2 linked regions of the Homo sapiens genome follow. The protein of the gene in region 1 interacts with the protein of each later gene in a pairwise test. Each region holds a gene or a part of one and is shown on either strand. Other genes may lie near its edges.

Evidence for each region.
Region 2: the proteins of ASNS (region 1) and WDR27 interact in binary tests that used the Homo sapiens proteins (3 or more experiments, as listed by UniProt).

What each region holds. Positions count from the first base shown.
Region 1 is NC_000007.14:97,869,382-97,876,390, reverse strand, and holds the start of ASNS (asparagine synthetase [glutamine-hydrolyzing]), read left to right. Parts: upstream 1-3,982; 5' UTR 3,983-4,040; intron 4,041-4,225; exon of another isoform or gene 4,226-4,672; intron 4,673-6,577; 5' UTR 6,578-6,613; intron 6,614-7,009.
Region 2 is NC_000006.12:169,657,006-169,664,033, forward strand, and holds part of WDR27 (WD repeat-containing protein 27), read right to left. Parts: intron 6,874-7,028; exon of another isoform or gene 6,558-6,873; intron 5,420-6,557; coding exon 5,299-5,419; intron 3,762-5,298; coding exon 3,658-3,761; intron 2,514-3,657; coding exon 2,446-2,513; intron 2,203-2,445; coding exon 2,081-2,202; intron 1,354-2,080; coding exon 1,271-1,353; intron 1,042-1,270; coding exon of another isoform or gene 926-1,041; exon of another isoform or gene 757-925; intron 603-756; coding exon of another isoform or gene 583-602; exon of another isoform or gene 1-582.

The DNA of each region.
Region 1 (7,009 bases):
AACACCAATAGCTATTATGATTATGATTATTTTTTCCATTTTATTGATGAGGAAACCAACACATAGAAAGGTAAAGGAACTTGCCAAAGGTGACGGTCACACAGCCAAAGAGCTGTAGAAGCAGCACAGGAATACCAGCAAACTCACAGCCAAGCTCTGCTTTTCACCTTCACATCATACAGTCCTCAGACTAAAACCCTAACTCTGACCTTCCAAATCAAAAATCATACTCAAGGCCGGGTGCGGCGGCTCATGCCTATCATCTCAGCACTTTGGGAGGCCGAGGCAGGTGGATCACCTGAGGTCAGGAGTTCCAGACCAACCAGGCCAACATGGTGAAACCCCATCTCTACTAAAAATACAAAACTTAGCCAGGCGTGGTGGTGGGTGTCTGTAATCCCAGCATTTTGGGAGGCTGATGCATGAAAATCACTTGAACCCAGGAGGCAGAAGTTGCAGCGATCCATGATCATGCCACTGCACTCCAGCCTGGGCAAGAGAGTAAGACTCTGTCTCAAAAAAAAAAAAATTGCCTAATAATAGCTTGGAAGTGCACATGTCTTCTGTGAAGGTTGATGGACTACAATTAGCTTCAAAACACAAATAAGTAACTGTGTTTAAATGAGGCCTTCTGTGTAATATCTAGGGAAAATCAATGTGGCTATTCAAATTTGTTTCCCCTTCCAAGCACAGAGAAGTTGCTCATGACTCTGTGATCCGTTTTGTCCAATGAACCATGAGCAGCAGCAGCAACTTGAGTCACCTCCAGGTGGAAGTGTTAAGAGGCTCTATGATCCACCACATTCCGTTTCCCCTGAAGGGTGATCAAGGACACATGCAGAGATGGGGCTTTTGTCAGCCTGGATCCCTGAGTGAACACAATGAACAGACCACCACACAATGCCCTAACACAGCCCAGACATGCAACGTGACCAAGAATAAGCCTCACTGTGGCCAGGCATGGTGGCTCATGCCTGTCATCCCAGAACTTTGGGAGGCCAAGGCGGGTGGATCATTTGAGGTCAGGAGTTCAAGACCAGCCTGGCTAACATGGTGAAATCCTGTCTCTACTAAGTACAAAAATTAGCCAGACAGTGGTGGCATGGGCCTGTAATCCCAGCTACTCAGGAGGCAGGAGAATCACTTGAGTCTGGGAGGCAGAGGTTGCAGTGAGCTGAGATTGCACCACTGCACTCTAGTCTGGGTGACAGAGTGAGACCCTGTCTCAAAAACAAACAAATACCTCACTGCATGGAGCCACTGAGATTTGGGGATTGTCGTTACTGCACCAGAACCCAAATCATCCTGACCGCTAGGGTGTCCTAACTAGGGTTTCTTCCCAAAAGCAAAGGCATTTTTAAAGTTCGTGACATTTAAACAAAAGAGCAAATACCAATATCTACCACTTCGTCAGGCTAACAAACCCAAACAAAGCCAACAGCCAGAAGTTAAAATAAACAGATCATTAGGTTGAAAATAGAACTGTCAAAACAGGCACAATTGACTTCATTTAGTGATTGCAAAGAACATCAGGCAAGACACACGTGTGGTCATCATAACATTTATCACATGCTTAATTGCACATGTTTGACTAAGAAAAACACAAAGTATTTAAGCTCATCTGTAGTTCAAAGTGCCTATCCGTGTATTTATCTATTCATCCTGATGTATTTATTGAGCAACTCTTTTGTGCCAGGCACTGTGCTGTGTTGCGGGAAGTCAGGGACCCCAAACGGAGGGACCAGCTGAAGCCATGACAGAAGAACGTGGATTATGAAGATTTTATGGACATTTATTAGTTCCCCAAATTAATACTTTTGTAATTTCTTATGCCTGCCTTCACTGCAATCTCTAAACATAAATTGTAAAGATTTCATGGACTAAACTTATCACTTCCCTAATCAATACCCTTGTGATTTCCTATGCCTGTCATTACTTTAATCTCTTAATCCTGTCAGCCGAGAAGGATGTATATCGTCTCAGGACCTGTAATAATTGCGTTAAGTACACAAATTATACAGCATGTGTGTTTGAGCAATATGAAATGTGGGCACCCTGAAAAAAGAACAGGATAACAGCAATTGTTCAGGGAATAAGAGAGATAACCTTAAACTCTGACCGCCGGTGAGCCAGGCAGAACAGAACCATATTTCTCTTCTTTCAAAAGCAAATGGGAGAAATATCGCTGAATTCCTTTTCTCAGCATGGAACGTCCCTGAGAAAGAGAATGCGCACCTAGGGGTAGGTCTCTAAACTGGCCCCCCGGGGCGTACCTGTCTCTTATGGTCGAGACTGCAGAGGTGAAATAAACTCCAGTCTCCCATAGCACTCCCAGGCTTATTAGGAAGAGAAAATTCCCACCTAATAAACTTTGGTCAGACCGGTTGATCTCAAAACCCTGTCTCCTGATAAGATGTTATCAATGACAATGGTGCCAAAACTTCATTAGCAATTTTAATTTCACCTTTTGCATCTCCTTGAAATGTCTGCCTTTGCACACTCTCCCTGAAAGAGGAGGGCAAGGGAGCCAGGATAGAAAGTGAGGTGGAGAAGTGTAGAGCTCTGGACGGACAAGCAGGAGATACGCAGCACAAGGAAGCACACTAGGTAACACACCAAGCAGGGGAACCTGTCTTTCACTACATAGGCAAGATGCTACGGGAAATGGGCTCTGGGTTTACACAGATTATGACTCAGTTCTCTACTGTTGTGAAGCTGTGTTTGGATAAATCCCTCAACTTTTCTGAGTCTTATTTTTTCATTTGTAAAATGTAGATAGAAGACCTACTTTCCCACATTGCTCTCAGGTTTAAAGTACGTCAATTAGGATACAGCAAAGTCTGTTTGATACTGAAAACTTTCCAGCAACAATGAACCTTAGAACAAGTCATCTCTCATCTTTGCTCTTGCCTGTAACTACTAAGCGACTACTCCATCTTCTGTTCTTAGGGATTTTAAATTGTTGACGTTTTTGATTTAGTCAGGAATGCGTTGTATGGGGATATCAAACCTGCATGCTCTCCAAGCATTGACTGTAGTCTGATCTTAGTAGGTCGTGCACATATAATTTTACTATTTCTCAATTTATTTCGGTGCTGATGTAATTAGTAAAATACGATTTAAGAGTGTTATGATACTTTTTAAAAATCGTGATGTCTTTTCTTCATCAAAGAGATACTTAAAAGCACATAATCATCTTGTGGAGGCAAGTTGACAAAATCCTTTTTGAGATTCTAAAAGGAATCTTTGTACTTAAAATGTTTAAGGACCACTGATGTATTTTGGCTTCATGTATCAATTAGATTTAGATTTTATTGTTTTAGAGATGGGGGTCTCCCTTTGTCGCCCAGGCTGGAGTTGAGCTCACCTCAGCCTCAAACGCCTGGGCTCAAACTATCCTTCTGCCTCAGCCTCCTGAGTTGCTGGGACTACCATGGTGTGCCACCAATTTTTATAGAGATGTGATCTCGCTGTGTTTCCCAGGCTGGTCTTGAACTCCTGGTTTCAAGTGATCCTCTTGCCTTGGCTTCCCAAAGTGTTGGGATTACAGGCGTGAGCCACCGCTCCTGGCCCCGATTTATTAATAGATCTTATAAGGACATTTTAGGCCTCACGCATCAGTTTCTTAGGACAAGCTTTTCTCTGCACTGCATAATAAATCAGACGGCAGTGCAACAAAAAAACGGTGATGATTTCCCGAAGAACAAACCAAGTTCAGAAGCCTCCCTAATTGTCAGAACAGCAGGTAGCCTGGGCGGAGCTCTGAGGCTATCCTTAAACAGGCGCACTGAGACGCAAGGCGCTGGAAACAAAAGAGCTCCTCCTTGCGCCCTTCCGCCGCCCCACTTAGTCCTGCTCCGCCCCGGACACCCCGCGGCCCCGCCCCTGTGCGCGCTGGTTGGTCCTCGCAGGCATGATGAAACTTCCCGCACGCGTTACAGGAGCCAGGTCGGTATAAGCGCCAGCGGCCTCGCCGCCCGTCAAGCTGTCCACATCCCTGGCCTCAGCCCGCCACATCACCCTGACCTGCTTACGCCCAGGTGAGCCGGGTCCTGCGCCCCGTGCCCTGCGCCCCGCGCCAGCATCCTCCTCGCGTGCCCTGGGGCTGCTCCGGAAGGAAGGGGTGGAGGATGCGGTCTTCAGCCTGGCACCCGGCAGACGCGGTTCGCGGGCGCCTGCTGATGCTGCGGCTCCTGCGGTAGGGAGGGCGGGGCGGACGCCTAGCGATTGTTACGCACCTGACAGCTAGCGGAAGGACCTTTCTGTCCTGGTTCCCTGAAGCATCGAGAGGGAACCGCGGCCGGCAGGCCGGACCGCTCCGGAGAGGAGGCAGCGGCAGTTTGAGCCCCTGTAAATGTTATATGTGTACTTTTTTTTACTATGTGGCGTCGAAGCCTGTGGACATTTTCGCGGTCCGGGTCCCTGCGGCGGACGGGTCGGATCGTGCTCGTGGCCAGGGCGCAGTCAGGTGTCGCGTGGTCCTGATCTAGGAAGAGACTGCGGCCTTATCACCGTCTCGGTGTCTGCTTTCACCTTCAACTGCCCCCCTCCTCACCTGGACCGCTCACCCTCCTCCTCCCCTCTCACCCCGCCATCCCCACCAGTCCCCACCTGTCTCTGTAGACTGCAAGACTCATCAAGTGACTTGCTGAGCAAACCCTGCCGAGAAGAGGTCTGTTTAGGGACACAGGCGACCAAGTACAGAAAAAGGCAAAAGAACTAGCATGCCTTTTTCAATGGCTGTCATTTTGCAGGGCTGGCTTCAGATGATTGTTATAGCTTTAAATAAAAAGGACAGTTTTCATCTCGGCCCGTGGCCTACATTATTTCTTTACTGTCCATTGCCCTGGGCGCTTGACTAATAATTTAACAGCAGTTTTTTTTTTTAAATTTTAAATCATGATTCATAGCATTGCTGTAAGAGTAATTAGAGGTAAAGTAGGGCTTGAACCTGTCTGTAGTTGGTTACTTACTGAGATCTTAATATAAAAGTAAAGGGAGAGGGTGAAGTTGTAAGTAGCACTAAGTGGAATAGAAATTAAATGCACTGAAACTGCCATGTCCAGTTCGGTAGGCGCTAGCCACCTGTAACTGTTGAGCACTTGAAGTGCTGGCTAGTCCTAACTGAGATGTATTGTGTTAAATACACTGGATTTTGTCGTTGGAGTAGGAAGAACAGTGTAAAATATCTGCTCGATAATATTTTATATTGATTACATATATGTTAAAATGTTACTATTTGGGACATACTGAGTTAAGTTTATTTAAAATTAATTTCACCTTTTTCTTTTAATGGGGCTACTAGTATATTTAAAATTACATATGTGGCTTACATATATATTTATTGGACAGCACTGTTCTAGAAGTTTAGGAAGAAATAAGAAAAATATTGAGAACAGGTAGCGGCAGTAGGAACTTTGCCCTCCTATAAGACTGATTCCAATAAAAATAATAGGTTATAGTTTTAATTGGCTTTTTCCTACTAGAAAAAATAAGTGTACTTTACATGCCTCTTTGTTCTCCCTTTTTCCCCTCCAGTTTAGTGGTTAGAATGTATTTATTATAGCAGGATTAATACAGGGATTCACTAAGCAGCGTTAAGAAGACTTAGGTAACTGATTCCCTGATGACCATACTTGATTTTCAAAGCACTTTCCTAACCCGTTTTAAATTGATATAGAGTCAAAGGCAGATGGCTTATTAGTAGTCATCTCATTTAAATCTTATGGAATTTTTCCAGTAAATCTCAAATAATTTGTTATAGGCTATTTGGGCTATTTGGTCAAGTGCATGGAAGAGACAGCATAGGACATGTGGTACTTCATTTCCAAATTGCTTGAGATGATTTTCATTCTAACCATATATTATTTGGTTCTGGTTTTCCGGAAAAGCCAGCTAAACCTTTGGTTCTTTTAGATATAAATGAAATATCATCAAAGAATAGCTCAAAGTGACTTATGCAACTTGAATGTATATTTTTTCCTTAGGGTGTTTATCCCAAACTATTTGGGCATTTGCTGCAATTCGCAGTTTTTTTAAAAAAAACACCAAAATAGTTATTTTTCAAGTTAGAGATGTTTTAATTAAAACATCTTGTTTTTGGTGTATCCATTGACATTCTCAAAACGGAATGTATCTGGACCTCTGTGTACAATCTTCGTAGCACTCAGACACTGAACAGAAAGGCAGTCATCACTGCCAAACAGGGCCCAAATGCCACACATGGTGCAATGTGTCATTTTGAGCTGGCAGCAGCCAAATAAAACAGCCCTTTATTTCACAGTTGAGAATTTGAAATTGGAAAGTAATTAACGTATGTAAGGGTGATTTATTTGCTTCCGGGCTTATAGGGATGAGCTAAGTTTTTTATTAGGGATGTTGTTGGTGTATATGTCTCACCTACTTTGCTTCCTTACTGAACAATGCAACTTTGAGACAGAAATATTTGAGAACATTTTTGTCAGTGAGGACATTTTGATAGTGAATATTTTGTATCTTCTATTAACTTGAAATGTTTTATTTGTTATAAAGCCAGGATATCTGATATCAAATTAAATTGTTTTTTTTTTCCCTTTAGATTTTCTTCAATCACATCTGAATAAATCACTTGAAGGTAACCTAGATGTAATATAGTGAAATGCTTGAAAGAGCTGCGTATCTTTTACACTTACAGCAGTATGATTTTCTGTTGTACCCATTATATGGTACCTGCAGCTAGTTCAGATAAAGAGGGCATTTAACTGTCAAGGGAACCTGAGAGGAGACTCTAGTAATCTGGAAAGTCTGTTGGATCTTTGAGGGATTTTGGGATGGTGAGAGTGGGGCTAGGATCTCTGGCTAGGTTGGAGCCAGCCTGCATTTGTATCTGTATCTTGGAAGCAAACTTAGAATGCAGAGACAGATGTGGCATGGACGCTGTCAGCTCTAGCCAACCACTAAATCCTAAGGTGGGAGAGATGCAGGCTTTGGCTAGGTGCTAAGCTGCTGTAGCCGGTTGAATGTAGAGGTC
Region 2 (7,028 bases), on another chromosome or scaffold:
GGTGATGGGACGGCAGCAGAGCATAAACCGGCAGGAGACGGGCAGTTCACACCGACAGTGGGTCTTTCATGGAAACAGGGCGGAGGAATGGGGGACCTGCTGGAAACCCCCAGCAGCAGGGACCGCCATGGCAGGACGAACAAGCAAACAGCTCCAGCCCCAGGCTCAGCTCTGAGTCCCCGCCTTCCACCTGAAAGCTCTCCCCGATCTGCAAGGCGGGTCAGAACCACACAGTCAGTGAGACCCAGGAATGGCACAGAAGGTGTTCGAGGCCTGATTTCAAAAAGTCTGGTAGGGAAGGGAGAGGCCAGAAGTCCCCGAAGTCAAGCTCAAGGGCTGCGTGGGAGCATGAAGGACACAGCCCATGTCTGAGGACGGACTGACGCAGGAACCCTAGCCCAGCCTAGCCGAGCCCGGCCCGGGGAGAGGCCCAAGGGTGGGGTCGCCAGGTCGCTGGCCGGGGAGATGGCCCTTCTGGGAGGTGAGGCCCAGCAGTCAGGCAGCTACCAGGCAGAAGGTGAAAGGCGGCTGCGGAAATGCCTCCGTTTTTCAAATGAGGTCCAGTAGGTTTCACAAGACCAATTAAAGGGTTAGACTGGTCACTGAAGGGAAAAAAGAATTATCAGTGAGCCTTGAAAGAAAGGGAACATAATGACGTTTACCATCTTAAAGTGAAAGTTAATTTATACATATTTGAAAGATGCAACATGTGGATTTGTTTGGCTGCTGCTCAGAACAAACCAATAGGAAATATTGTCAAGGCAATCAAGAATAATTTATTATGGCCTTGCTAATACAAGGTTCCAAAAAATGACTGGTTTTGATATAACGTCATGGTGGCTAGGTAAAAACATACATGTTCCAGAAATGCACACTCAAGTGTGCAGGAGTACAATCACACGCTCGGGATCTGCTTTCAAATTCCTCAGCAGAGAAAAAAGGGGAAAAAAATGTTCTCACAATCAGTAATTGCTGAAGGTCCACTCTGCACCCCCACTGCAACAGGCACCAGAGGAACAGCGGTCAGTCTTGGGCACGTTGCTGAATCCCATGAGTGATGGCCAATTCAGGAGGCGAAGCACCCAGCAAGTTCCCCACCACAGCGGACATGGAACACGCACGAGAGGCAGAGACATGAAGGACAGAAGGATGGAAGGAAGTACGGAATGCATATTTTAACATAAGAATTCGCAAAGCAATGCAGCAGCCCTAACCACAATGAGAACGCATCAGCCTTGTATTCTTAGATCTCACAGCACCCTGTACTGACCACGTCGCTGTTCACTAGCAGCCTTGGTACTCTTCTCCTTGGCAATTCCCAGATACAGTGGAGAGGTCGGTAGGACACAGGAGCTGAAACAGAAACAAGCCCCATGAAACTAGGAGCGCAAACGACGATACGATGGAAATGCCTCAGTGACACACACTTTAAAGACAGTTCCAAATGACTGATTCCTGCAGCTGTGGACATAACAGTATCTGAAAATGAAAACTGTCAAGTGTATTCTTATCCTTGTAGGAAAAAAATATTCTTAATAAAAGCGCTGTTTTATAATGTACATTCTATTATGAAATAGTGTTTCAATTAAAATAAACTATCAACTATTTCGTTTTCAACAAGATAGAAGCAACAGCACGAAAAACCTTCTTCCAAATAGCATTGGCAGAGCTCCGAGTTTTCTTTTTTTTTTTTTTTGAGATGGAGTCTCGCTCTGTCACCCAGGCTGCAGTGCAGTGGCGCGATCTCAGCTCACTGCAAGCTCCGCCTCCCGGGTTCCCACCATTCTTCTGCCTCAGCCTCCCGACTAGCTGGGACTACAGGCGCCTGCCACCATGCCTGGCTAATTGTTTTTTGTATTTTTTAGTAGAGATGGGGTTTCACCATGTTAGCCAGGATGGTCTCGATCTCCTGACCTCGTGATCCACCCGCCTCGGCCTCCCAAAGTGCTGGGATTATAGGCGTGAGCCACCGCGCCCGGCCAGAGCTCAGAGTTTTCTAATCTTTATTTCTGAACATAGAAATCCAGATGGCACTTATTGGTGAACACACACACACACTCCACACTTGAAGACACTCTACCTGGCTGGCACCGAGAGGCTCTGCCCCATGCTGGGGCACTGCTGAGCCCTGACTAGCGCGGCCGGGTTGATCTCCAACACGGCAATCTTCCCGCCAAAGAGGGAGGCCAGCAAGCACAGCACCTGCAGGGACGCGGTTTCAACATCGTTAGCGACACCACCCAGTAAAAGCAGACGAAACGTGCATCCGCACACGTATCCTAACAGCTGCTTCATTCTCATAGCAGCGACATCGCCCTGTCACTCCTAAAACGTTTTTACACACAAAATCCCGTTTACTCAGCCAGTCGTTACAGGATCACTCTGAAGAAAGAAGAAATCAGAGGCACGTCTCATAGACAGGGAGGGCCGCGTCTCAGGACTGACCTTTTGATCCGCAGTGCGGTTCCTCAGGGCACACGATCCGGCCAGCAGGATGCTGAGGCTCTGGAAATCTTCAGTTGAGCGAAGACCAGGAAGAACATGATGGGGAGGGAGGTAGCACATACACACGGAGTCACTGCCCAGAGCCCACCACACACAGCCCAGAGCCCACCACACACAGTCCAGGCCCCACCACACACTTTGCAGGCTGTGCACCACATCCTCACACATACAAGGCCCCAGGCCACACACACACCAGCGCACACACCACACACACACCAGGCCCTGAGCGTCACACATGCCAGGCTCCGCTCTGAGGCTGGGATGTGACTCGGACTGAGACCTGCAGCTCAGCCTCCTGGAGAAGCCACATGTCCAGCACCAGATCAGAAAGGAAATGTGTAATTAGAGCTGTGACCATTTGGGGGAAGGAAAGGCTGAGTTTTCAAGGAGAAGCTGCGCCTGGCTGAGCTGGGGAGGGGCAGGGATGGGCGGCTGAAGGGAAGGGCGTGTGTGAAGACACAGATGCATCCCACAGCCCCACAGAGGTCTGAGCGTTCAGGGCTAGAAAGGAGGCACCGAGAGGAGCAGTGCCCGGGAGGCCGCCGAGGAGGCCCTGCTGCAGTGGAGGAGAGGGACGGAATCCAGCCTGCTTTTCAGAAGTCGCCTGGGCTCCTGGGCAGAAAGAGTGCGGCTGGTGGCATCCATGGAGTTAGGAGGGGTGGGGGGATGAGATGGGGGTCTTGGGGGAGGGGGTGGGGGTGGAGGTGACTATTCCTACATTTCTGGAGCTGGCAGAAACTGGGGAAGGGAGCCAGGGTTGGAGAGGAGTGCGCCTCGGCCGGGTTTACGCTGTGCGAGCCTGGGGCTCTGGGAGGCTCTCTAAGGATGGTGGAGAATCCAGGGGCTTCCCAAGGGTGTTCCTGCAGGTGTTCCACGCTGCTGGGGCCCGGGCGGCCTGGAGTGCCAGGCGAGGGCCTGGCAGATGTAGGCAAGGAGTGGCTCCAGGGCTGAGTGCCCGAGGGTCCGGGAAGGGCCCTCGTCCTTCGGATCCAGCAGCACAGAGGTGCTCACGTGCTCAATGCTGAGTTGTGACTGAAGCATCTCATCCTCAGATTCACACGGCAAGGCCTTCTCCACAAACACTTACACTACCCCACATACCAGTCAAAGGAAAACATTACAGTTACATGGCGTTGAAATCAAAGATCTTACCCTTGTAATACAAAGCAGCTTCCACTTCCAGGTTTGCCAGGTTAAATACGAATAAGCCCACTGAGCTTCCGATCCACACACATCGGGTGTTCTCAGAAGAAAGACTGATTTAAGGAAAAAAAGAAAAGAATACACAATAATCTTATTCCTGAAGGTTGGGCCCCACGTGCGCCCCCTGGCCTGGCTGTGAGCTCTCCGCAGGAGTGGGGAGTGTGGGCGTTGGGCCCCACGTGCGCCCCCTGGCCTGGCTGTGAGCTCTCCGCAGGAGTGGGGAGCGTGGGCGTTGGGCCCCACGTGCGCCCCTTGGCCTGGCTGTGAGCTCTCCGCAGGAGTGGGGAGCGTGGGCGTTGGGCCCCACGTGCGCCCCCTGGCCTGGCTGTGAGCTCTCCGCAGGAGTGGAGAGCGTGGGCCGGGGCAGGTTCTTGCCAGTGAGAACCACATCTGTGCCAGGCTGGCCACATCTGTGCCACCAACGCATTTGTGGTGATCCCCTGGGCACCTGCTAATGTCTGTGAAGACGCTCGCTCTGACCTCTGTGGTTTCTATTTTCTTCTAAGGTTACAGAAAAGGTCAGTGCCAGTGCCTGGGCCAAGGCCACTGCTCAGGTAGCCTCCGAGTGACTAGACTTGAAGGCCACACAAGCTGCCCACCTCTGTGAATAAGGAACCAACTCCAGGAGGAAAGTAGCTGGCCCGAGGCGGCAGAGTTAATACCAATGCCAACGGGGTCTGTTAATACACTGAGAAGCCATCTCCAGGGAGGCTGGACATGGACTTGGCAGAGGCCCCCAGCTGGAACCTGCTTTCCAGACCTCCCCTCTCCAGCTCCGCCCCAGGCAGCACCCTGGGCTCCTCCTGGGCATCCACCAGCACCAGTCCACGGTTCACCCAACGACCATCGTCAACAGAATGGGTCATGTGGCTCTGGCTTAGCTCTGAGGGCTCCCTCTGCTCGAGGTAAGCCAGGGAAGCCTCAAAATGCCTCAGGTCCATGCACCCACCGGGAGCACCGTGTCCAGCCTCCATGCCCACCCTGCTTACTCTCTGTGGTTTGGACCAAGCAGGGAATATTCTGCTCCAGGGGCAGCTCTGCACAGAGACAAAGACAAGCAACGGCCAAGGCCATTCAAAGCAAGGTTGCCCCCTAATCTCAAGCATTTTGGGGAGGAGAAGTAAACATAATTGTAATATATTCTTGAATCACAGTTAAACAGTACTTCCTTATGTTGCCAAATATGTAATAATATTTCTACTGAGCACAGAAATAAATAAAATTAGTCTGGGGTTAACTTTAAATGTGTAATGTATAGCACAGCGGTAGATGGGAAAGTCTAGGCCATTCCAATCACCATTTCCTCTTTCTAAAGAAAAAGTTGTATCACAGAGGCAAAGATCTGCCTAGACTTTGGTAATAAACTTAAAAATCATCCAATTCCTTTTATTAAAGACACTTACGTATCATTGCCCAAGTTTACCAACTTTAAGATTTAAAACATGCAATCCCAAGAATGAAGTTACTAATAATCAGAGACCAAAATAATTTGGTTTTATCTCAGTCATTCTTAGAAAATGAACCTAATGTTCATCTAAGGAATTTAAGAGGTTTCCTTTATGTGGCATAGGCAAAGTTTTTGATACTTACCATCCACATGCAGAATTTGGGATGAGTGAGAGATCACAGGGTGCAAGTCTCAGTACAGGAAATGTTACTTCAACCTGCTCTCCTTTTCCCAGAGCACTTGTAGAGGGAAGCTGGCTTTCTTCTAGGGACAGAATTATTGAGAATCTAAGAAGTGAACTTAAATGCATCCGTCAAGTTTAAAGGCTGAGGACTGCCACACAGAGATGCTGCAGTGAATGTGCACCGTGGAGTCACTCGGATCACGCGTCGAGGAAAGCACTAAGGTAACACCCAGCATGACGCGTGTGCACCACGGAGTCACTCGGATCACGCGTCGAGGAAAGCACTAAGGTAACACCCAGCATGACGCGCATGCACCGCGGAGCATTCGGATCACGTGTCGAGGAAAGCACTAGGGTAACACCCAGCATGACGCGTGTGCACCGCGGAGTACTCAGATCACGTGTCAAGGAAAGCACTAAGGTAACACCCAGCATGACGCGCGTGCACCGCGGAGCATTCGGATCACGTGTCGAGGAAAGCACTAGGGTAACACCCAGCATGACGCGTGTGCACCGCGGAGTACTCAGATCACGTGTCAAGGAAAGCACTAAGGTAACACCCAGCATGATGCGTGTGCACCGCGGAGCATTCAGATCACGCGTCAAGGAAAGCACTAAGGTAACACCCAGCATGACGCGTGTGCACCACGGAGTCACTCGGATCACGCGTCGAGGAAAGCACAAAGGTAACACCCAGGATGATGTGTATGCACCATGGAGTCACTCAGATCACGCATCGAGGAAAGCACTAAGGTAACACCCAGCATGACGCTACCTGGGAGCAATGCAACTTCAAGTGCAGAACCAGAGCAAGGGAGTGGGAAAGAGGAGATAATCAATTGAAAGAACTTAACTTCATATTTCCTAAAACTAAGTTTAAGATTTCCTTCAGCAGTAGATATTATCAAATAAATAACAAAAACCAAGGTTTAAAACATCAGGAAAAAATTGGTATACTGGATAAAAGTAATTTCAGACCTAATATGAAAAGAAATAGTTTAAAGTCATCTACAAAAAAACACAACCTAAAAGAAAGAATGAGTAACCAGAATGAGGAAGAGAGTGTAGGCTGTGAGCCCAGAGATGATTTCTGTAATATGAAACGTCAGCTGCACACACCAATGAAAGAGGTGGCCCCTGGATTGAAAAGTAAAATCAACATTTTCTTCCAGGAGAGGGTCAGCTCCTTTGTGACAGTACAGGAGATAAAAAGCGCACCTGAGGAGAGCTGTCGTCAACAGGAAGCAACTCTGGACAGCCAGAGACCAGGTGAGGACAAGGTTGCTGGGTGGGTGCATGTGGCATCTGCAATGCGCAGGAGACCAGGTGAGTACGAGGGTGCTGGGCGGGTGCAGGTGGCATCTGTGATGCGCAGGAGACCAGGTGAGGATGTGAGGGTGCTGGGCAGGTGTAGGTGGCGTCTAAGATTCACAGGCCAGGTGGGGACGTGGAGGGTGCTGGGTAGGTGCAGGTGGCATCTGAGTCATGCAGTGTACCTTTCTGATCAGCATGACCTGCCCTCCTTGGTCACCCACTGCAGGAAAGCAACCCATAGCTGCAAAGCTGCTGCCTTGGTGCCTCTGCTCTTCTGTTCACCAAAGCCTCTCACCCCCGTCCCCACCCACACCAGGTGCCTCCATCTGCTGATGGCCCACCCCTCACATGACCTGCAGGGCCTCAGTGGTTTTC